7 linked regions of the Homo sapiens genome follow. The protein of the gene in region 3 interacts with the protein of the main gene of each other region in a pairwise test. Each region holds a gene or a part of one and is shown on either strand. Other genes may lie near its edges.

What was found.
Region 1: the proteins of GRIPAP1 (region 3) and DRC4 interact in binary tests that used the Homo sapiens proteins (3 or more experiments, as listed by UniProt).
Region 2: the proteins of GRIPAP1 (region 3) and CEP57L1 interact in binary tests that used the Homo sapiens proteins (3 or more experiments, as listed by UniProt).
Region 4: the proteins of GRIPAP1 (region 3) and ZNF35 interact in binary tests that used the Homo sapiens proteins (3 or more experiments, as listed by UniProt).
Region 5: the proteins of GRIPAP1 (region 3) and PRPF18 interact in binary tests that used the Homo sapiens proteins (3 or more experiments, as listed by UniProt).
Region 6: the proteins of GRIPAP1 (region 3) and AARD interact in binary tests that used the Homo sapiens proteins (3 or more experiments, as listed by UniProt).
Region 7: the proteins of GRIPAP1 (region 3) and EHHADH interact in binary tests that used the Homo sapiens proteins (3 or more experiments, as listed by UniProt).

The regions. Positions count from the first base shown.
Region 1 is NC_000016.10:90,032,680-90,036,179, reverse strand, and holds part of DRC4 (dynein regulatory complex subunit 4), read right to left. Parts: intron 3,463-3,500; coding exon 3,256-3,462; intron 548-3,255; coding exon 493-547; intron 1-492. UniProt on the Homo sapiens protein: Component of the nexin-dynein regulatory complex (N-DRC), a key regulator of ciliary/flagellar motility which maintains the alignment and integrity of the distal axoneme and regulates microtubule sliding in motile axonemes.
Region 2 is NC_000006.12:109,168,507-109,171,712, forward strand, and holds part of CEP57L1 (centrosomal protein CEP57L1), read left to right. Parts: 3' UTR 1-3,206. UniProt on the Homo sapiens protein: Centrosomal protein which may be required for microtubule attachment to centrosomes.
Region 3 is NC_000023.11:48,992,265-48,995,764, forward strand, and holds part of GRIPAP1 (GRIP1-associated protein 1), read right to left. Parts: intron 1,315-3,500; coding exon 1,164-1,314; intron 1-1,163. UniProt on the Homo sapiens protein: Regulates the endosomal recycling back to the neuronal plasma membrane, possibly by connecting early and late recycling endosomal domains and promoting segregation of recycling endosomes from early endosomal membranes.
Region 4 is NC_000003.12:44,655,232-44,658,731, forward strand, and holds part of ZNF35 (zinc finger protein 35), read left to right. Parts: intron 1-3,469; coding exon 3,470-3,500. UniProt on the Homo sapiens protein: May be involved in transcriptional regulation. Involved in cell differentiation and/or proliferation.
Region 5 is NC_000010.11:13,628,162-13,631,359, forward strand, and holds the end of PRPF18 (pre-mRNA-splicing factor 18), read left to right. Parts: intron 1-2,098; coding exon 2,099-2,179; 3' UTR 2,180-2,698; downstream 2,699-3,198.
Region 6 is NC_000008.11:116,941,207-116,944,987, forward strand, and holds the end of AARD (alanine- and arginine-rich domain-containing protein), read left to right. Parts: intron 1-1,351; coding exon 1,352-1,495; 3' UTR 1,496-3,281; downstream 3,282-3,781.
Region 7 is NC_000003.12:185,192,587-185,195,049, forward strand, and holds part of EHHADH (peroxisomal bifunctional enzyme), read right to left. Parts: intron 902-2,463; coding exon 1-901. UniProt on the Homo sapiens protein: Peroxisomal trifunctional enzyme possessing 2-enoyl-CoA hydratase, 3-hydroxyacyl-CoA dehydrogenase, and delta 3, delta 2-enoyl-CoA isomerase activities. Catalyzes two of the four reactions of the long chain fatty acids peroxisomal beta-oxidation pathway.

The sequences.
Region 1 (3,500 bases), on a different chromosome or scaffold from region 3:
GGCCTGCCTTTGCCAGTGACAGGCATTGCTAATCGCTCCCTGCACTGGGGGTGCCAACAGCTGAATGTCAGCTGACCCCAGTGAGCAGTAACCGAGGCCTGTGTGGCCACCCAGCCACAATCAGCCTTTATTAGTAAAACACAGAGACTTCTGAAATTGGAGCCTTCTCAGACCAGGAGCCATGGAGAAGACTATTTTAAGAAGGCTGCCCACGGCACTGAATAGCTACCACCTGCTGATAACTACTGATTTTAGCTAGGAGTGGGAATGTGTGTGGTAATCACAGCCTCCCAAACTCACATGGAAATAGGTTGTTCTGGGATTCTGAGTGGGTCCACTGGCCTTGGAAACTTCCATGTTCTTTCTCTTGCATGCCTTGGCTGTTTTAATCCAGTTTTTGCTCCCTGAGTTAACAAGCTCTGGAGGTAAATTCCTCTCTGATGGGGCGGGGGTGTCTCTGGCACCTACACAATGAGCACACGGGAAACTGACCTCGAACTTGCCTCTCAAAATCATTCCGCATCCTGGTGATCTCCTCGGTGTGTTTCTGCACAGGGAGAAGCGGCCATTACTACACAGCCGGACACAGAGGGAAGCCCGCTCCCTTCAGGCTGACCCTGTTCCTCATGGTTTTGGTCACCTCCATATTCCCTAACTCACCTCCCTCAACTAAAGTCACCTCTAAGCTTGAGAGAGAACATGAACAGACGTCGTGAGCACTGAACCCGCTTGGTTCCATCGCCAAACCATCCCACAGCCTGAAGAGCAGCAGCCACATCCACACAGAGCTGTGGGATCTTTCCAGGTGCCGTGTGTAGCTTCCAACCTGCTGCACTGCTGCCTGAAGCAGCATATTAAAAGGATTCATTCCTGTCATCCCAGCACGCTGGAGGCCAAGGCAGGAGGATCACTTGAGGTCAAGAGTTCAAGGGCAGCCTAAGCAACATAGCAAGATCTTCTACAGAAAATTTAAAGATTGCCGGGCACAGTGGCTCACGCCTGTAATCCCAGCACTTTGGGAGGCCGAGCTGGACAGACCACCTGAGGTCGGGAGTTTAAGACCAGCCTGACCAACATGGAGAAACCCCGTCTCTACTAAAAATACAAAATTAGCCGGGCATGGTGGCACATGCCTGTAATCCCAGCTAGTCGAGAGGCTGAGGCAGGAGAATAGCTTGAACCCGGGAGGCAGAGGTTGTGGTGAACTGAGATTGTGCCACTGCACTCCAGCCTGGGCAACAAGAGCAAAACTCCATCTCAAAAAAAAAAAAAAAAAAAAAAAAAAAAGATTAGGTGGGTGTGGTGGCTCATATCTATAGTTCCAGCTACTTGGGAGGCTAAGGCAGAAGGATCACTTGAGACTAGAAGTTCGAGGCTGCAGTGAGCTATGATTGTACCATTGCACTGCAGCCCGGGAGACAGAGTGAGACCTCATCTCTAAAAATAAATAAATATATAGTTTTAATGAACAATTATTATATATTTAAATAAACATTATATATTTAAAATTTGCATAAAAAAATAAATTATTTTTAAAGCAGTAATTTTTCTTTTTTTTGAGACAGACTCTCACACTGTCGCCCAGGCTGGAGTGCAGTGGCACAATCTCGGCTCACCGCAACCTCCGTCTCCCAGGTTCAAGTGATTCTTCTGCCTCAGCGTCCCGAGTAGCTGGGATTATAGGTGTGCGCCACCACGCCCGGCTAATTTTTGTATTTTTAGTAGAGACGGGGTTTCACCACGTTGGTCAGGCTGGTCTCAAACTCCTGACCTCGTGATACACCCTCCTCGGCCTCCCAAAGTGCTGGGATTACAGGCGTGAGCCACCGCACCCGGCCTAAAGCCATATTTTTACCCAACAGGAAACTCTGATTATGTAACAATATCATATCCAGGACCTGGGTTAAGACCAGCTAATTCTGGAGGGCTCAAGACTTCGGCACTCTCAGGCTTTGCTGCGAAGTCAGCAACGTCACCAAGTTTCTTCCAGATTCAGTGGAGGCTGGACTGCTTCCAGGCGTGAGGCAAATGTGTTCAGAAAGTCTCCTCAACCCAGCAGCCAGGAAGAACCTTAGTGAGACACATCTCTCCTCTGCCCAAGTTCTCAGAGGGCAACAGACTCCACCAGGGTCAAAGTCCCAGTCCCCACCACGGCTTTCGAGGCGGACGAGCTCTGACCCGTCTCCAGTCCCCACCACGGCTTTCGAGGCGGACAAGCTCTGACCCTCTCCCACAGTCTCCTCCTGGTCACTCTGAGCTTTCCCACTGGCCCATCCCGTCTCCCAGCCGGTCAACTGCTTGTACAAAACCGCACCCCACCTCTCCCCACTTCGATCCTTCTATGGCACTCTTCCCCACCAGATACTCTGTTGTATCTGGCACGTTTATTTTGTCTTCCAACTCACCTGTTGTCTCTCCTTTCTAGACCAACAGCCCCAGTCGGGCAGGCGTTTTGTCAGAGATCAGATCAGGACCTAGCAGCTAATGGACACTCAGCAAATGATCTCTTTCCTTTTTGTTTTGTCTCACTCTGTCACCTAGGCTGGAATGCAGTGGCACAATCCTAGCTCACCACAGCCTTGACTTCCTGAGCTCAAGGGATCCTCCCGCCTCAGCCTCCCAAGTAGCTGAAACTATCGGCATGTGCCACTACACCAGCTAATGTTTTCTTTTAAATTTTTTAGACATGGGGTTCAACTATTTCACCCAAGCTAGTCTCAAACTATTGGCCTCAACCACTTCTCCCACCTGACCCTCCCAAGTGCTGGGATTTTGGGTGTGAGCCACTGAACCAGGTGCACAGATGAATTTTAATGGTGCCCTGGAAACCCCCAGCCTCAAAAGTAAAAATCAGACCAGCTTGTGTGACAAACTGTCACAGTGCCCAGGAGTCAACACACTGGATATTTTAATGGTTGGTTTGCATTCTACTAAATGCATATGATGCTATTCCCTAGGAAAAGTCTCTGGGTGTCAGGTGTCAGCAGCACATGAAAGATCCTAAGCTGGATTTTTTCTCTTCGGTGACGTCAATTTTTTGCTCAGGTCTGAGACAGAATTGTGTACTTGGTCCCAAAATGGGGTTTGTTTGGATGCATGCTTTAAAAAATTTTTTTTCAACAAATTGCAAAAATGCAGAAAGTCTTATGCAGAAATATGAATTCCCAGTTGCTGTTGAATAAACAGGAGTTCATGCAGCACTAGGCTTGCCGTCCCAACAACCTGTCAGCCTCCAGGTGCCCCCGCCACACCTACCAGCCGCAGGTTCTTCACCACCACCTCACTGGCCAGCTCCTGCTCCTTGAGCTCCACCTTCAGTGCCCGCATGTCCTTGCGCAGCACACTCTCCTGTATGCGGTGCTCTTTCTGTGCCAGCTTCATGACTACAGTGCCCTCAGCCTTCATCTCTGTCAGGTTGTTCTGGTGCTCATATAGCAGGTGCTTCACTTTCTGCTTGTACACCTGCAGGGCAATGGGAGTACCATCTGCTCACCTGCACC
Region 2 (3,206 bases), on a different chromosome or scaffold from region 3:
TGGTTGGATCCAGTCAGTGTTTTTCATAGTACATACAGTCATACCGGTGGATTGTCAAATCAATTTAGCGGGTCACTACCAGCATTTTTTTTTTTTTTTTTTTTTTGAGATTGGAGTCTCGCTCCTTCACCCAGGCTGGAGTGCAATGGTACAATCTCGTCTCACTGCAACCTCCACCTCCCAGGTTCAAGCAATTCTCCTGCCTCAGCCTCCCAAGTAGCTGGGATTATAGGTGTGCACCACCATGCCCTGCTAATTTTTTGTATTTTAGTAGAGATGGGGTTTCACTGTATTGCCCAGGCTGGTCACGAACTCCTGAGCTCAGGCAATCTGCCCGCCTCAGTGTCCCAAAGTGCTGGGATTACAGGCGTGAGCCACCATGCCTGGCCAGCATTTTTTAAATGATATAAAATAGTATTGAAAATATCAGAATGTGGCCAGGTGCGATGGCTCACGCCTGTAAAATCTTAACACTTTAGGAGGCCGAGGCGGGCAGATTGCCTGAGCTCAGGAGTTCAAGACCACCCTGGGCGACATGGTGAAATCCCATCTCTACTAAAAATACAAAAATTAGCCGGGCATGGTGGTATGTGCCTGTAATCCCGGGTACTCGGGAGGCTAAGGCCAGAGGATTGCTTGAACCAGGGAGGCGGAGGTTGCAGTAAGCTGAGATTGTGCCACTGCACTCTAGCCTGAGCAGCAGAGTGAGGCTCCATCAGCAAAAAAAAAAAAAAAAAAAAAGATCAGAGTGCATCACACATAATTAAGGTAGCTTATGTTTTGTGAAACTTTGTGAGTACGGGTTGTCATTTTTAATGTAGCCCTAAATGTTTTTTAGGGAAGAAAAAGTTGGCTTTTAATAAGTATTCAGTGAGAATGAATTTGAAGGGTGTGGAGAAAAGTGGAATAGCCAATTTAAAATAGGAATACTCCCAAGTCCCCTGTTATGGATGTGCCAATCTATTGTTTATCCCAGAAATATTGTTTCATGTGTTTTACAGATAACAAGTCTCATTTTAATCAATACTGTTGCATTTCCTGGTCTATAGAATACAATTTTCAAACACTAGCCAACTTACCTTAGAGAAATACTGGTTTTCTAATGTGGGCAAATAAATACATTCAGTATGAATCCCTTAACAAAATGACCTCATTATGCTACCTCTTGGTAAAATCTAACCAAGCATGAGTCTTATGATTAAGAAAGAAATTTGCTCTGTAGGTGCTTCAGACAGTTTTACAACCAATAAGAATGTGAGATTTGTCGGAGAAAAACTATCTGCATGTCTCCAATCTGAAGAGAGCAAAGATCTGTTATTTGACAAACCCTATTTTTCCGAGCATCAACAGTCAGTGGCACCATGAAAATTAAAAACCTGATAATACCACCAATGTAGTACTCTTTAAAAACATGTCATCTTACTCAGCAATCAACCTGATTGAATATTTTAAAATGAATAAGTGGATAAATATCTTACCTGAAAGATAGCTTCATTAAATAAACTAACTCCTGAGAGGATTTCTTTGGCCTTTAATATCCTATTTAATAGATTTCTTATAACCATATCAGCAAAGCCACTCTGCTCTGGACAATGGTCAGAAGGTAGGAAGAAGTGTTATAGGGTAATGAGCAATAATAAGGCCACCAAATATAATCCCATTGTAATGGGATTCTACCCACTTGTAGAAGTTTATTCACCACTACAAATTACTAAAGTTAACCTAAACAATTAAAGAAAGAAATCTTAGTCTTTAAGAACAGAGGATTGTAAAGTGAGCCAGACCTTCCAATCAGCTAAAATAATGTAAAATAATGTACTTTTCAACCTGACTTGGCTTAATGTAGTTAAGTAAATTTTAGGATAGGTTCTAAAAAACCTTGAGAGGCATTTTGTTGTTGTTGTTGTTGTTGTTAGTTTGCCTTAAAGTTAAATGTACATTGACCTTTGGTATTTCTTAGAAAAACCTGTTACTGAACCTAGTACAGAATGTGAATCATTTCATGCCTGAAATACAAGATTGATGTTTACAGGGCAATTGTCCAGAATCTTGCTGAATTGGAAAGTATTTCACTCTTCATCACTGTAGATCCGTTTAACTTTACAAATGTGTTATTTAAAACATAAACCATTTTGGTGCACAGGAAACCCACTTAAAATTAAATTTTAAAAAGCTCTCGAGAAGTCTGTGGAACATTTATGGTTTTATAACTTACAATTTCTAGCAAAAGTATCTTTAATATCTTACAAAATATTTTCAGAGATAGCTTATCCAAAATATGTAATACATGTGAGAGAATAGCACTGTTGAAATGCTTGAACACATAAAAAGCATTATTGCCTTCATTTTCCCTGAAATGAACCAAGCTACCAATTTAAAGCTGGGAAAGTCAGTACCAGAGTTAAAAACAAGTTACTTTAAAGATATCTGCTTTTACTTTAATCTAAAAAATAATTGATTTTTTAAAAAACTTATTCTATTTTATGTATATAACTTCTCCTTTATAAGCTTAGAAAAATTTATATCAGTATTACATTCTTGATTCTCTCAAGGTATGATTTAAATGGTGGACACTTAAGCCAAAATTTCAAACAGGTTCTTTTTTCTTTGTTCTTTTACAGAATGGCTCTCAAGTCGAAAGAGGGCTGTGCCTTTGGTGTTTGGGTATGATATATTTGCCTGTGATTTCTCATTCTCAGAGCATTCCCATAAATAATGCCACAAAGTAGAGTTTGATTTTTTTTTTTTTGAGACGGAGTTTCGCTCTTGTTGCCCAAGCTGGAGTGCAATGGCGCGATCTCAGCTCACTGCAACCTCCGCCTCCCAGGTTCAAGCGATTCTTCTGCCTCAGCCTCCCAAGTAGCTGGGATTACAGGCATGCGTCACCACACCCGGCTGTTTTTTTTTTTCGCATTTTTAATAGAAACGGGGTTTCACCGTGTTAGCCAGGCTGGTCTCGAACTCCTGACCTTAGGTGAACTGCCCGCCTCAGCCTCCCAAAGTGCTGGGATTACAGGTGTGAGCCACCGCGCCCTGCCTAGAGTTTGATTCTCTTAAACCGTTCTACTAAAATACTATCAGTTTAAACTACCATCTACAGAAATAAAAAACATAAACCACTAAAAGATTAAAGCATTTAGGAGTTTATATGCAAAGAAGTCTTGCAAGGGAGTACAAGCTTTAGGAGGACAGGCTTATCAAATTAA
Region 3 (3,500 bases):
CAAAGTGCTAGGATTACAGGTGTGAAACACCGTGCCTGGCCTAATTATTTTATTTTTAGTACACACAAGTTCCTGCTATGTTGCCTAGGCTGGTCTTAAACTCCTAGCCTCAAGAGATCCTTCTGCCTCAGCCTCCCAGAGTGCTGGAATCAAGGTATGAGCCACTGTGCCCAGGCTCTCACAAATATTTTAAGCCCTATCAACCACTAAGATTCTGTTTACTATTAAATTAGCCCAAGCTGGTTTCACAAATCCCATTCTCAATCCTTGAAGCCCCACCCATAGCCCTTGAAGGCCATGCCCACCATATGCTACCACTGACTTACAGCTGAATCCCTCCTAGAGCCTCCTAATTCCTACTCACATTCTACTAAGTCTCCCTCCTGGTCATGGAACCAGCATCCATCACCACAGAAGTCCCAGCTGCTCTCCAAAGTTCCACACACCACATGCTCCCACACTCTATCAAGCTTTCTTTCAGCTTTCATCCCAGACCCCACTTACAATCTGGGCTCAGAATCTTCCCAACACTCCATTCACTTTTTCACTTAGCAAATATCTCCTTTTTTTTTTTGAGATGGAGTCTCGCTCTGTCGCCCAGGCTGGAGTGCAGTGGTGTGATCTCGGCTCACTGCAAGCTCCACCTCCCAGGTTCACACCATTCTCCTGCCTCAGCCTCCAGAGTAGCTGGGACTACAGGCGCCCGCCACCGTGCCCGGCCAATTTTCTGTATTTCTAGTAGAGACGGGGTTTCACCATGTTAGCCAGGATGGTCTTGATCTGCTGACCTCGCAATCCGCCCGCCTCAGCCTCCCAAAGTGCTGGGATTACAGGCGTGAGCCACCGCGCCCGGCCGCAAATATCTCCTTTTTGACATTCAAGCTGCTAATCTGTAACATCTGCTAGGTACCAGACACTGAACTAATGCAGAATGATATCACCTTTTATCTCTACTACAATCTTCTGGGTGACAGACATCACTACATGCACTGTGTAGATGATAAGGCTTTGGCTCAGAGAGGTGAAATGGCTTGTCCAAAGCCACACAGGGCATGGGCCAACCCTATTTCTGAAGCCCTTCTCCTTCCCCTGAGAGGATGACGGCCTTCCTTGCCCTACTCAAGCCCCAATGTCTCCGCATCCCCAGGAGGGCCTCTATGCACCTGCCACGTTCTTCTGCAAGGCTGTGTTTTCAGCCTGTAGCCTCAGCAGCTCCCCATCCACGAGGGGCCCAGCTTGGGCAACCCCTGCTCCTGCAGCCCCCTCCTTCAGTTGCTGGTTCTCTTGCTCCAGCTGTTCCATCTGGCTGCAGAGCTGAACAGAGGAAGAGAAGGGGCAGAGAAGCAGAGAATCAGAGCAGTATTTGCTGAAACCTACATAGCATTTGTCCATGTACTTTACAATTCACTTAATTCCCATAATGACCCTATGATATAGGTGCCCTCCCACTTTACAAATAAGGACATTGAGGCACAGAGATGTTAAACAAGTTCAAATTCACACATCTTTTAAGTGGCAGAGTCAGAGAATACCAAGAGCATACCAAGTATGAGGACACCAAAAACCATTTTCCTCTTCCTACTCCCAACCTCAGAGATGCAATCCAAGACCTCAGGCTCCTCTGGAAGTTGTTAGTGCTACAGACAGCCTCACTGCAACCCCTCTTCTGTGGAGGGCTGGATCCTGGGCCCAGAGATAGCTCCCTCTCATCCTAAGCACCACAAAGAGCTCGCAGGGCATTTCCAGGGCCAACACTGATGACAGCTCCTGCATTGCCAGCCGTTAGTCTTGGAGAGGTATACAATGCCAATACAACTAAGCCAGCCCCCTGCCCAACTCCTGGCTGAAGTACACTTCTCAAAGCAGTCCTGAGAAAATTCCTTGTCCCCATTTTCAGATGAGAATATCGAGGCCTACAGAGAATTTTTATTTTATTGCCTGCAATATTTTCTTTCTTTTTTTTTTTTTTTTTTTTTTGAGATGGAGTCTCGCTCTGTCACCCAGCCTGGAGTACAGTGGCACGATTTCAGCCCACTGCAACCTCCGCCACCCGGGTTCAAGTGATTCTCCTGCCTCAGCCTCCTGAGTAGCTGGGACTACAGGCATGCGCCACCGTGCCCGGCTAATTTTTGTATTCTTATTAGAGACGGGGTTTCGCCATGTTGGCCAGGCTGGTCTTGAACTCCTGACCTCAGGTGATCCACCTGCCTCGGCCTCCCAAAGTGCTGGGATTACAGGCATGAGCCACCGCACCCGGCCTGCTTGCAATATTTTCTACCCAGAACACCAATCCTCTCATCCAGTTCTTCACCTAACTGGCTTCTTTGCATCCCTCAGTGCTCTGCTCAGATGTTGCCTTTAAAGTAGTATCCCTCAACACAGAAAATTCCAGTACTCTCTGTCACAGCACTGTTCATTTCTTTCTTACCTAGTACTAATCAAAATTTTCTTTTGTAACAAGCACAGATTCTGAAACCAGACTGCTTGAATGTGAATTTCTGCTCTGCCATTTACTAGCTGTGTGACAAATTACTTAATCTCCCTGGAACTCAGTTTTCCTCATCTGTCAGATAGGGATACTAATATCTCATAGGCTTATTTCAAAGATTAAATGAGTGAATAATGTAGAGTACTTCAAACAGGACTTGGCACACAGTAAGCACCATATAAATGTCAGCTATCACTACTAGTATTATTTGTTTACTGTTATCATCTTTCTCCTCATCCCACCCCCAGAATGTAAGCTACCCAAGAGTGGAGATCATTCTGTGCTGCTTACAACTGTATTTCCAGAACATAGAGCATGTGGTGGGTACTCAGTAACTATTTGTCGAAGGAACAATTAAGCTGAAATGTCTTGATGAATAAGGGGTGGTGGCAGGTTTAACGTAGCTCTCTCTGAGAGCACTTCCAGTTCCTGGGAGGAGTTGGAGGAGGAAGGGGACTATGTAGGAAGTCTCTACGACTAGCCCAGTGCTGGCCCAGGGCAGATGCAGGGAAACAAGCTGGATTTATGGAAGAATGTCTGCCCCTGCCTCACTCTGCAAGAATCATGATACCATGGAGGCTGGAGGCAGGAAGCAGTGAGGAGTCAGTCAGTGAAGCCAGCAGTTATGTGAATACCAGGGGCTCTGAACTAGGAGCAGGACTGGGGCACTGGAATGTATTAAGTAAAGGAGTGATGTCATAAGATCTGCAGGTCAGAACAGCCTCTGTGGTGTGAACTAAGTAGAAGAAACTAGAAGTGAAGAGACCAGGGAGGCGGCTGTAGAAACAGCAGATGATAAGTGGTAGAGGCTAAGGCAAAGCAGGGCCACAGGGTGGATATAAAACTTTTTTTTTTTAAATTGAGACAGAGTCTTGCTCTGTCGCCCAGGCTGGAGTGCAGTGGTGCAATCTTGGCTCACTACAACCTCCGCCTCCCGGGTTCAAGCGATTCTCCTGCCTCAGCCTCCCGAGTAGCTGGGACTACAGGCACGTGCCACCACACCCGGCTAATT
Region 4 (3,500 bases), on a different chromosome or scaffold from region 3:
TTAAAACATTCCAAACACCTAACTGGGCAGACTTACAAATCTTGTAAATAAAATCTTGATAAACACAGCTGTTATAAATCTAATGAATTGGACTTATAAATTTAGTAAATCAAATTACCCTTCTTATCTCAGAATACAGTCACCAGCTAAGGTGGCAGGCTTATGTAGCATTTCAGCTATCTTTAAAAAAAAAAAAAGAGTGAAAGAAGAGTATTGATTTAAAAACTATGGCTATGCCTGTGTTCTAGTTGGTCACAAATTAGTTTTTGTTTTAGTTTTTCATTATTTCTGTACTTAATTTAATTTCTCTAGAGCTACAGTAATCCTACATGTTTTTTAAAAAAAGGAAAAATACCATTTCAAATAAGCCAAGGTTATACGCCCGGATTATTTGCTGATTAATCTTTTTACCCAAAGAAATTTGAACTTGACTATACCAGATGGACCCTAATTCTCTTTTCTTAGGCACTTGCCAAGACCCCAGGTCTTACTTTACTCAGTGATGAATCACTTGCATGAAAACCTTCTAGGCTACAGTTGCACCTGGTTTTGTAATGGTTTTGACATGAGACATTATTCAGATAGAAGGAATTGTTTCCGTTATTGGCTCTAATCAGTTTAGTAGTTCCCATTGATCTTCATGCCCAACATTCTAAATCTCCCAGTAAGGAGGGTAGGAGTGAAAGTCAGGGAGACAGTGCAGCTATGAACTAAAGTTTTCATGGGCTCTGTTTCTGTTGGAGAGATGCCCAGCTGGGGTATGGGAGGCCCACGTGTCAGTGATGGGGAGTTAAAGCAAAAGAGGAGGTGAAAAGAATCAAGGGAGGAGACGTTGGATGGGAGGAGAATAAAGTGGGATGTAGGTGATAAAGTAACAGTAGAGAACACAAAGAGAAGCAAGCAGTCAGCAAAAGAAAAACAGAAGAGGCATGAAACTGTATATGGAAAAATTCAAAATATTTCACACAAAAAATTAAAAAACAGGAGAGGAGAGAGATGAAGAGTCAGTAGGGGGTCGAGATAGCAGGAAAAAATAAGCAGCAGCAGAAGAAAAGATATAAAAGCAAGTGAACTACAGAGAGAAAAACAGAACATTTTTAAAAAGAGGGAGCTAGCAGAACAGTAGGAATAGAAATAACCAGAAAAAGTTTAGCATTTCAGATTTTTTTTTTTTTTTTGAGATGAGTTTCGCTCTGCTGCCCAGGCTGGAGTGCAGTGGCACGATTTCGGCTAACTGCAACCTCTGCCTCCTGGGTTCAATTGATTCTTACGCCTCAGCCTCCAGAGCAGTTGGGATTACAGGTGCCTGCCACAACACCCACCTATTTTTTTTGTATTTTTCCTAGAGACGGGGTTTCACCATGTTGGCCAGGCTGGTCTCGAACTCCTGACCTCAGGTGATCCACCCGTTTCAGCCTCCCAAAGTGGTGGGATTACATGAGCCACTGCACCCGGCTTTTTTTTTTTTTTTTCTTTGAGATAGAGTCTTGCTTTGTCTGGCCCAGGCTGGAGTGCAAGTGCAGTGGTGCAGTCTCAGCTCAGTACAGCCTCCACCTCCCAAGTTCAAGTGATTATCCTGTCTCAGCCTCCCAAGTAGCTGGGACTACAGGCATGCACCACCACACCTGGCTAATTTTGTATTTTTAGTAGAGACGGGGTTTCACCATGTTGGCCAGGCCGTTCTCAAACTCCTGACCTCAGGTGATCTGCCTGCCTCAGCCTCCCGAAGTGCTGGGGTTACAGGCATCAGCCACTGTGCCTGGCCAGCATTTCAGATATTTATTGTTTGTCATATCTGGGGCTCTACTGTATCCAGCACTTGGGCATTTCTTTCCTCTGACACTGCTCATCTTGTCTGAATGATTGTGATAGAATTTCAGATTACCATAGTCTTAACCAGGCAATCAAACCAGGCTGTTTTCCTGCCCCCAATATTGCTTTGTACCACCCCAACATCCTTGTCCCACCCACTCATATCATTGGTTGGATGGTCATCCTATAGAATATTTCCCTCTCATGGGTGCTAGTCTCTCCCCTGCGCAGTAGCAGCAGTTATAACCTGAAGCTCACAGCACCACTGCTTATTTCTGAGCTGACATCACCAGTGGGAATACCTCCCTCCTCTACAGGCTTGCCACCCATTCCTGTTACCCTTTATTTCACTTGCCTTATTTCTTGAGCTTGGTTTAATTGACAAACACTTCTTAAGGGTTCACTGTGCCAAAACTGGATTACATGGGTGCACATTTCAAGGTTAAGGAAAGTGAGTGTGCAGAGGAGACAAACATAAAGAACTATGATGTTACTGATAGCAGGACCCCTTTTTGACACCATTAGGTTCTGAAGCAATGTAAAGCATCCAGAGACTAATCAGTGTCATAAAGCTTCAGGGTGTTTTGAAGTTCTCATGATATTTTCTGGCATTGTGGAGCAGGCTATGCCATAACTCAACAAGGTCAGCTTTCCTTGACACAATGCTAAGCTGTTCCCCTGACACAAGGGTAAGAGTTTGCCATGTACAGTTTCTTTTTTTATTCTCCTAGTGTAGCTGTCTATCACCATAGCAGCTCCCCTCCCCTAAGGGTTCATCTTTCCTTCTGGCCCCTCACAACATCATCAGTCAGCCTGAAAGTTGCTGCACACATTCAGAGCACTGACTGTATTCCAGGCAATATCTGAGTAGTTGACATAGAGTAACTCCATTAATCTACTCATGGCCTTATGAGGTAGATACTATTAGTATCCCTGTTTTAGAGATTGGGAAACTGAGGCACACAGGAGTTAAGTAGCCCAAAGTCATGGAGCTAGTTAGTGTCAGAGCAGAGATTTGAAACCAGGCAGTCTAGCTCTAGAATCCATGTTCTTAACCTGTATGCTGCAGGACCTCGCAGTGTTTCATATGGTTTTGGCTGCTGTGGCTGTCTTGGCAGCCAGTGTTACCCTTTCTGTCCGTGCTTATCCTTTCTTTGATATCCAGCATCCTCAGACACAGAAACCTCAGTTGCTAGATCTTTGTTTACAGGTAGCAAATCACCCTAATTAACTGGTGGGTTGCAAGCAAATCCACACTAAGTAGCTAAGGTAAGAAGGCAAGCCTAGGGAGAGGCTTGTGTCCTTCATAACTGGTCTTTGTTGCAAGGGCAGTCATCATACAGCCAGCAGGAGCACTGTCTGGAGATTGGCCCTCCCTGGCATGAGGCAGCGGGCAGCGGGGTTAAGTGTCTAATGGAGGCAAGTGGAAGTGCTGGAAAGACCACGAGTCAGTGGGTTCTGCCATAGGTAGAGGGGAGGGCAAAGCCCCAGCTGAAGAACCTAGAGAGGAGAGGTAACATGTGATGGGATTCTCTTCTTTGATGAAGCCATTTTGTGGAGGTGCTGAAATCACATACTTCGTTTTATGACTTGATGATCCTATTCTTTTTCTAGGCCAGAGAAAGCTAACATTTGTATTTTCTGTTTCTTGGTTCAGGTGCTGAAACCAAGAACCTACAGTTACTGGT
Region 5 (3,198 bases), on a different chromosome or scaffold from region 3:
TGCAAAAGCCCTTCTTGTGAATCAGTTGAAAGATAACCTCCCTCCACACCCCTAATTCCTAAATCTCATAATGTGGGCAATCCTTGAATCCACCAAGGACTTTAAATACTTCACAGTCTTGTTTCTCTGATGTGGAATCTGTTAGATTATGGCTCCATTCATAGAAGTATGTCATTTGTCCCTTAATATCCTCAGGGATTGGTTCCAGGACCCTGCAGATACCAAAATCTGGATGCTCAAGTCCCTGATAGAAAATGACATAGTATTTGCATATAATCTATGCACATCCTCCTGTATACTTTAAATCATCTCTAGATTACTTACAATACCCAACACAATGTAAATGCTATTTAAATAGTTATTATATGATATTTATTTGTATTATTTTTAATTCTTTTTTTGTTGCCGTTTTTTTCTGAATATTTTTTAACCAGGGTTGGTTGAATCCATGGACACATAACCCATGGATACTGACTGTGATTAATATTTGTGTTGTCTGCTTACTATGGGACCAATGAGATTTTGCAGGGATTTTTGTGTTGTTTGTTTGTTTTGGTGATTTTATTGAGCTTAACAGGTGTTAAGTTACGTAGATTTCAGTAAGACCTTTGGCAAAGTCTTTCCTTGTAAACAAGGAAATGTGTGTGTTAATGAATTGCACAGTGAATAGGATTCATTGCTGGTTACAAACTCTTCCCAAGATCGTTTTGGAGAGAGCTCAATCGTGGTGTGTCTCAGGTCTCTGCCCTTGCCCTGGCCTGTTTGCGCACGGTATTGAGTATTTGGATAATGACTTAGAGGACATGTTTACCGAGTGGTGGATGAGAAAGCTAAGAAGAATAACTAAAGCTAAATGTCGACCAAGGATTCTGAAAGATCACAGACTGAAGGATGAGTTGAAAGAGACAGGATGAAATTGAATAGTGATAGTTGTTTTCATCAGCTTAAAAAATCTAACTATAAAGTTATACACTGGAGAACTGGCCAAACTGCTGTAGAGACAAAAGGCACTTGAATTTTGTGAGATCGGTGGGAATTAGGTGTGTGTATTGTAGTTGTCTAAAAACAGCTAAGGGTCTTGGTTACAGTTGCCAAGATACAGAACAAAAGTAGTGCAGTGACTACTTCTAGTGAATTCTGCAAGAATGGCCAGGTCACGCTTGGAATGTTGTACTCAGTTTTTACTGACATATTAAAGTGGTTTTATTGTGTAATATTTGGTACATACAAAAGAATACATGTAAAACACAAGTTATAAAGTAAGTAATAAAATGAATGTCTAAAAGCCTTACTCCCAGTTTAAGAACTAGAACATTCTGAAAACCATTGAAACAATATTGTCCTTCCATACTCCAGAAGTAACCATTACCTTGCACTTAAGTTTGTCATTTCCTTTCTTTTTGAAAAACCGTTCCACCATGTTATATGTGCATTTCTAAGTAATACATTTTTTACTTGTTTTTGAATTTTATGAAAAGGATGTCACTGAAGGTAGTAACACTTCATGCCACTTGCTTTTTACTTTCGACATTGCTTCTAAGATTCATATACATCGGCCTTTCCCAACCAGAGCCCCTCATCTTGACCACAGAACACAGAAAATAATTGGAGTGTATTTTCTCAGTCCTCCAAACATGATACATAAATAGTCTCCTAAATTTTAGATGCATAAGGGAGAAGTTATCTCGTTACATACAATGGATGCCTTAGGCTGGGCATTTGGAGCTTAATTCTCTATTGGAACCTGGTTGAGACTGGCCGAATTGTTACATGTAGCTAGAGTTAATTCATTTTTACTGCTGTAAGATATCCCATTTGTGAGCACACTAAAGTTTTTTTCATATGTCCTCCTATGGATGGAAATTTGGGTTGTTACCAGTTTTTTGGTTTTGTTATTGTGAACAGTTCTGTGATGAACATTCTTGTGTGGACCTGCAGGTGCACAAGAAAAATTTCTCTAGGCATACATCTGAGTGAATTTGCTTGGGTCTGCTGCATTTTATGGGGACATTGACAAACTGATAACGAGTTCAGAGGAAGGCAGTTAAGAATAATTTAACCATGTCATAACCAACCTTTGTTTTCCTTATTTTCTTAGGGATTGAAGAGGTTAATGACCATTTGCCAGAAACACTTTCCTACAGACCCATCCAAATGTGTGGAGTACAATGCACTGTGAGATCTGTGTATGGTGTGTTAATAACAATAAGAAACTTAGGGAAGCAGGCTGTGGACTTCTGGAATTACCAACAGGAATGAGGAAAGAAGAAAACTGGAGTTTCCAGTCTCTGAGTTCTACCTGATGTAACTCTTGATTGGTTTTAAGAACTTTGTTGGCCTTCATTTCATATCTGACTGCAAGCTGATTTTTCTTTCTTGCTTTCATTTTAATTAGTCCAAAATTAAGTTTTAAAGATTTTTCCTCACAATTTAAATCCATAGACAACAGAAGGGGGTTTAAAATGACCTTTTTTTCAGTTGACCCGAAAGTTGTGGTTAGATGATTAAAAAGAAACATTTGAGGATGGACTTAATTATTTCAGTAAAATATTATAATTTGCCTATTGTCTTTTATGTAATATTTATATAAAATATTTTTATATATTTCAAAAACATGGGACCATTGAATGAAACTTTATAGTCCTTAAATGTTGCTGAACTTTTGCTGTCTTGCAATAGAATTTGAATGTAAATATTATTACTGGTATAACTCAAATGTTATTTTTCTTGCATTTCAAAGCTTGCTTTTATCTTCCAAGAAGTGTAAATTTTAGTATTTGTCATCTCTCAGGACAGATACAATTAATAGGAAATAGAAGTTTGAAGAAACAGAGATGGCACATCATAGCAAACTAAGTTCAAAACAGAATAACCCCAGTGCATCAAGGTTAAGGTGGGACAGTGGTTTGTGATGCCAGGGAGAGTGGGGAAATTGTGATGATGCTGGTAGACCTGGGCAGACTGTGTTCCCAGCCACACCCGCCAACAGAGGAGGAAGGTGCTGGTACTGATGTCCCCACCCGAGAGTCTGTCCTGGCCTTGGTTTTCCACAGTGAGGGCTCGTTCTAATGTTGCACAATGTCATACTCAGATATCACTGTGACCTGTTACTATGCTTTAGAACCCGAGAGGCCTCTGTTCACATGGCAGCATGTGTGAGTGGATGCTCCCGGAGCAGGTGGAGTGGTGGCGCTGGAT
Region 6 (3,781 bases), on a different chromosome or scaffold from region 3:
AGAGTGCTGTGGATGCACAGATGAGAGGCAATTATGTCTGCCCATGCAATCAGGGAGGGCTTCTCAGAAGAGCTGGCATTTGACTGGGTTCAGCAGAGAGAGGTGGCAAAGGGCATCTTAAACAGAAATGGGGACAGAAAGAGGTGAGCTTCAGCTCAGCATTTATTTAGGGACTGGCAAGGTTTCTGACCAGCTGCAATGGGAGCTGGCATGGGAAAGAGGGCCAGGAAAGGAAGCTCAAAGTAGGGCAGGATTATAGAGCATCTGGGCCACCCTAGAGAGCTGAAGCTTCCTGCAGGCAAGGTGCAAGGGTTTTTTGTTGTGGTGGTTGTGTGGTTACTGTTAGTGCTTGTTTGCTGGATATTCATTTACTTTATTCTTTGCTAATTCTTGCTGTCAGAAAAATGATTCTAGGTGCTTCAGAATGGAGAGGAATGTCTCAGAGAAAAACTGAAAGATAATTTTATCCAGTAGCTTTATTTTGCAAATCAGATGACCATGAATATTTGCTTTTTACCAACACACTGTCCTGGTTCATCCTGGGGTGGTTTCTATTGACAAGCTGATGAAGCTTTTTTAGCAGAGAGAACAAATTCCTCGTGAACTGCATTAAACAAGCCCTAGCTGAAGAAATTTGCAAGTAGTTGATCATTAGTTTTCAGTTATAATACAAAGATTATGTTGGACTAAGCTTTCTTGGACTGCCCCCGGGTAACATGCCCTAGAGATCTTTTTTTAAACGCACGAGGACCTTCATAAACTCCCATTGAAGGATGGTATAAATCAGCCTTGATATGAAACAGATTTCACTCCAGAGTGAAAAATGTTAGATTATATAAGTACACATAACTATACATGTGTCTCTAAGGTGTCATTAAATGTTTTTGCTCAGCAGGTAGACCATTTAAAATCCTGAAAACTTGAAATGATAAGTAATCAAGTAAATAGCACAGATTCTGAATACTCAGGTGGCTGTAGGCAGTTATCCTGTGGCTCAGAAGGCGCATAAAGATAAATGATTTCATTGTGGATCACATGCTATTCCTTGAAAACAGCCTTCGGTGCATAGGTATTTTTCATATGGACAGCTTTGTGCATCAGCTACTTTTGTTTTCATTTCAAGCCATTTCAAAAACTATTTATATATCTGGATTTTACCTTGTCATATAGAAAGTCAGTTTTATAGCCAGACCAAACAGTTAAAACTGGAGAATAAGATGAGAAATACATCTTCCTTGATATCTTATTTTCTTTTCCTACAAACTTCTTATTTCTTCTGTGTAGTCAGAGAGTGGTTTCATTTGATCTGCATCTCAGGCTAATAAAATTTTTATTTTTTTCTAACTTTTAGGTGGAAATGCATTTCCAAAACCACCAGCTGGCTAGAACTTTACTGGACCTAAACATGAAAGTGCAGCAATTGAAAAAGGAGTATGAACTGGAAATTACATCAGACTCCCAAAGCCCAAAAGATGATGCTGCGAATCCGGAATAAAGAAATGCACACGCAAGGGCTGGGCGCGGTGGCTCACGCCTGTAATCCCAGCACTTTGGGAGGCCGAGGCGGGCGGATCAAGACGTCAGGAGATTGAGACCATCCTGGCTAACACTGTGAAACCCTGCCTCTACTAAAAATACAAAAAATTAGCCAGACGTGGTGGCAGGCACCTGTAGTCCCTGCTACTCAGGAGTCTGAGGCAGGAGAATGGCGTGAACCCAGGAGACAGAGCTTGCAGTGAGCCGAAATCCTGCCACTGCACTCCAGCCTGGGTGACAGAGCAAGACTCCATCTCAAAAAAAAAAAAAAAAAAAAAAGCACACGCGAAGCTCTGGATCCTAAAACTAACGCATACAACCCTGAAACAATTCTGATGAACACATTATGCTTTGCATAAGTTTTGAGGGGCAATTTATAGACCCAAAACAAATGACAGGGGAAGGTGACAGAAAAACATCTAAGAGAGGGGAGAGAAAAATGATGTATTACCAAGTTTTAAAGTTATTTATTTGTTATTTTTACTGGGACATAGAAGTAAAATATAACTATAGATAAATCTCTCTCTGTCTCTCTCACTCAAAGAATGCTTTAATGCCAACTTTCGGTATTCAACCTTGTGTCACCTGACCTTTCTGGCATTGCCTGAGCTTTCAGAGTTTGTGCTTGTTTTGTTTTACTTGATTATTCTCAGTTTGTCTGTCCAGCAGCCTGCCCTGCTTCTTGTGGAGAATTGTTTCTACTTGGATTCTAACCATGCCCTTTAGGTGGTCTGTGACTAAGGGTATTCCATCTTCCTGGATATAGTCATGCAGCTCAAGGCAGGCAGATGGGTTTGTCCTTAGGATTTTTGAATGGGCACTAAAAGAGTAGATGACTATTTCTGCCAGTAGAAGCTGTGGATCAGGGGCTTGGAAGCTGCTGGTGGTCACCATGTGAGAAAGCCCACACCCTAATGGAGGTGACTGAAACGGAACCACTAAAAGCACAAAAGGGGAGGGAGGGAGGGAGGGTGCTTCGCTTCCTTGTTCCTGGGGTCAAGCTGTATAAGACTCCAGGCCTTGCTCTTGTTTATGTACATGAAATATTCTGATATCCTTCTCATAAAATCTCTTTTTGCCTAAGTAAATTCAAGCTGGAGTTTCATGACTTGTATCTAGTGTTCATAACTAATACAGTTGTTCAGTTTTAGGAGTTAAAATGGTTCTTACTGTTGAATTGGACTATCTAACTGTACCCGAAAAGTGCTGTCTTTTTAATGCAAACAGTAAAGTTAATAAAAAATAGTTGCAGATCTAAGTGATATTTATAATGGTTATTGTCTGCAAAATACAAATTAATTTATAACAAGCTATGTAATTTTAATATTTAATAAACTATAAAAATCAGTTCTTGAAGACAAAGGAGAACAGAAGAGACACAGTCTTTCTCTTGTTAAAAGAAATACAAGGACAAGCATGGTGGATCACGCTTGTAATTCCAGCACTTTGGGAGGCTGAGGTGGGCAGATTGTTTGAGCTCAGGAGTTTGAGACCAGCCTGGTCAACATGGCAAAACCCCATCTCTACTAAAAATACAAAAATTAGCCAGGCGTGGTGGTGCTCGCCTATAGTACCAGCTACTCAGGAGGCTGAGGCATAAGAATCACTTGAACCTGGGAGATGGAGGTTGCAGTGAGCCGAGATCATGCCCCTGCACTCCAGCCTGGGTGACAGAGGGGGACTTGGCCTCGAAAAAATAAATAAATAATAAAAATAAAATAAATGCAAGTTGTTTTATGTGTGTGAGGATCTGAGAATTATCTGGACTAAGTTTAGTTTGTCCTTAACTTTTTTGTCCACAATAAGTAAATTATTCTAGCCCTTTGGTACTTAATTTCCCTCTGTATAAATGAGGAATTACCAAATTCAGCATTGGCAGATGAGCAGTTGCCAGCATCTCAATATCTGACCATTGTGTTCCTTCACACATTTTACGTATGAGCTCTTGGCCTATAAATATACGACTACTATATTAAATTTCATTTGTAAACTAGATTTCCTGTTTATTTCTTCCTTTGAATTTTATAGAAATTTTTAGGAAAGGGTTGGCATAGTTCCTTGTGATCTGTTTTTTGAAAAAGCTTCCACTTAACCTTTGGGACAATCATTCTCAAGTGCATTTTAAAGATTAACATTTATAAATTGTTGTAATTTTGTGTTTAAAAAATACTCGAGGTGATTCATTGTATGAGCTCAATTCCTTACAGAATACAGACTGCTGATGTTGGTTAATACTAATGTCATT
Region 7 (2,463 bases), on a different chromosome or scaffold from region 3:
CTATACCGTGATAGGAATTTGGAAAGCCAGGGATCAGGTTTGTGAATCCTACCCAATGGCTTGTCATATTGATACCAACCCTTACCTGTCTTCTGGCCAAATCGTCCTAATTCACAGAGCACATCAGGAATTGGGCAGTACCTCCTATTACCCCTTTTTCGGGCAGGAGTTCCTGGAAGCAATGTAGGTCCAGTAAGACCTTGCCCCTTTCTAGATTTCCAGCCCACATCCAACCCAGCAAGATCAGACACTCTAAAAGGTCCCATTTTAAAACCAAACTCTTCCAGCACCTGATCTACCTCCTCTGGTTTGCTGCCTTCTTCTAACAAGAAATATGCCTGATTGTAGTAAGGATTCAACATTCGATTCCCCACAAATCCAAAACAGTTGCCTACAACGACTCCAATCTTTTTAATCTTTTTTGATAAGTTCATAACAGTGGCAATGGTAGTGGGGGAAGAGTATTGGCTGGGAATAACCTCTAACAACTTCATGACATGAGCTGGCGAAAAGAAGTGGGTGCCAATGACCAAGTGAGGACGATCAGTGGAAGAAGCAATCTCATCAACATCCAGGGCTGAAGTATTAGTGCACAAAAATGCTTCTGGTTTGCACACAGCTGAGAGTTCAGCAAAGACCTGCTTCTTCAGGCTCATTTCCTCAAATACTGCTTCAATGACTAAATCTACACCACCAAGCTCCTTCACAGATGAAGTTAACCTGGGTTTTGGTCCTGACCAAGGGTGGCCGCTCTGTTGCATTTTGGAGGCTTCTTTTTCCAAGACAGAGGTTATCATCTTGTTTGCAGTTGCTAGCTGGTTTTTGTCCGAGTCTACAGCAATCACAGGAATCCTGGCCCTTGCAAAAGAAATGACAATGCCTCGGCCCATTGTTCCCAAGCCTGCAGATAAAAATCAAAGGAGAAAAAGAATGATTCAGTGGTATTGGGAACTGATAAATTATTCACTGGATGGAAGGCTTATGTGACAATGTGGCATTTAAAGAGATTGAGTCAAGAAACACAAATGGATTGAGTACTAGTTAAGACTCTGCACTCTCTTAAGTGTTTCAGAGGATATAAAAATTAGTCAGATTCACACACACAAATAGAAGCTATACAAACTAATAAATGAGTCCAACGAGATTGTAGGTACACAATTGATATACAAAAATCAAGTATATTTCTATATATTAGAAATAAACAATCTGAATATAAAATTAAAAGAAACAATTCTACTTACAATAGCATCAAAAAGAATAATACACAGGAAGAAATTTAACAAAGAATAGGAGGATTTGTACACTAAAAAGTACAAAACATTGTTAATAGAAATTAAGTAAGACCAAATAAATGGAAAAACATTAAATGTTTTTGTATCAGACAACTTAATATTGTTAAGGTGGTAATACTACCCAAATTGATGTGAAGAACCAACACAATTCCTATAAAAATCCCAGCTGGTTTTTTGCAGAATCAATAAGCTGATCCTAAAATTCACATAGAAATGCAAGAAATCCAGAAGAGCCAAAACAATACTGAAAAAGAACAAAGTTGGAGGATTCACTCTTCCCAATTTCAAATTGTATGACAAAACTATTCAAGGTTGGGTGAGGTGGCTCGTGCCTGTAATCCCAGCACTTTGGGAGGCCAAGGTGAGAGGATCACTTGGAACCAGGAGTTTGAGACCAGCCCAGGCAACACAGTGAGACTCCAACTCTATAAAAAATTAAAAATTAGCCAGGGGGCCAGGTGCAATGGCTCACACTTGTAATCCCAGCACTCTGGGAGGCCGAGGTGGGCAGATCACCTGAGGTCAGGATTTCAAGACCAGCCTGACCAACATGGAGAAAACCCGTCTCTACTAAAAATACAAAATCAGCTGGGTGTGGTGGTGCATGCCTGTAATCCCCACTACTTGGGAGGCTGAGGCAGGAGAATCACTTGAACCCAGGTGGCAGAGGTTGCAGTGAGCCAAGATCGCACCATTGCACTCCAGCCTGGGCAACAAGATTGAAACTCTGTAACAACAACAACAACAACAACAACAACAACAACAACAAAAATTAGCCAGGCATGATGGTGCATGCCTATAGTCACAGCTATTTGGGAAGCTGAAGCAGGAGGATATCTTGAGCCCAGGAGTTTGAGGATTGCAGTGAGCTATGATCACACTACTGCACTCCAGCCTATGTGACAGAGTGAGACCCTGTCTCAAAAAAAAAAAAAAAAAAAAAAAAAAAAGAAGCCTATAGTATTTAAGACAGTGTAAGATAGTGGTCATTGCAAAAGGATAGACATATAGATTAGCAGAATAGAACTGATAGCCAAAAGCAAACCCACACAATTATGGCCAATTGATTTTTAACAAGAGTGCCAAGAACATTCAACAGAGAAAGTATAGTCTTTTCAACAAATGATGCTGGGACAACTGGATATCCACATGCAAAAGAATGAAGTTGGAC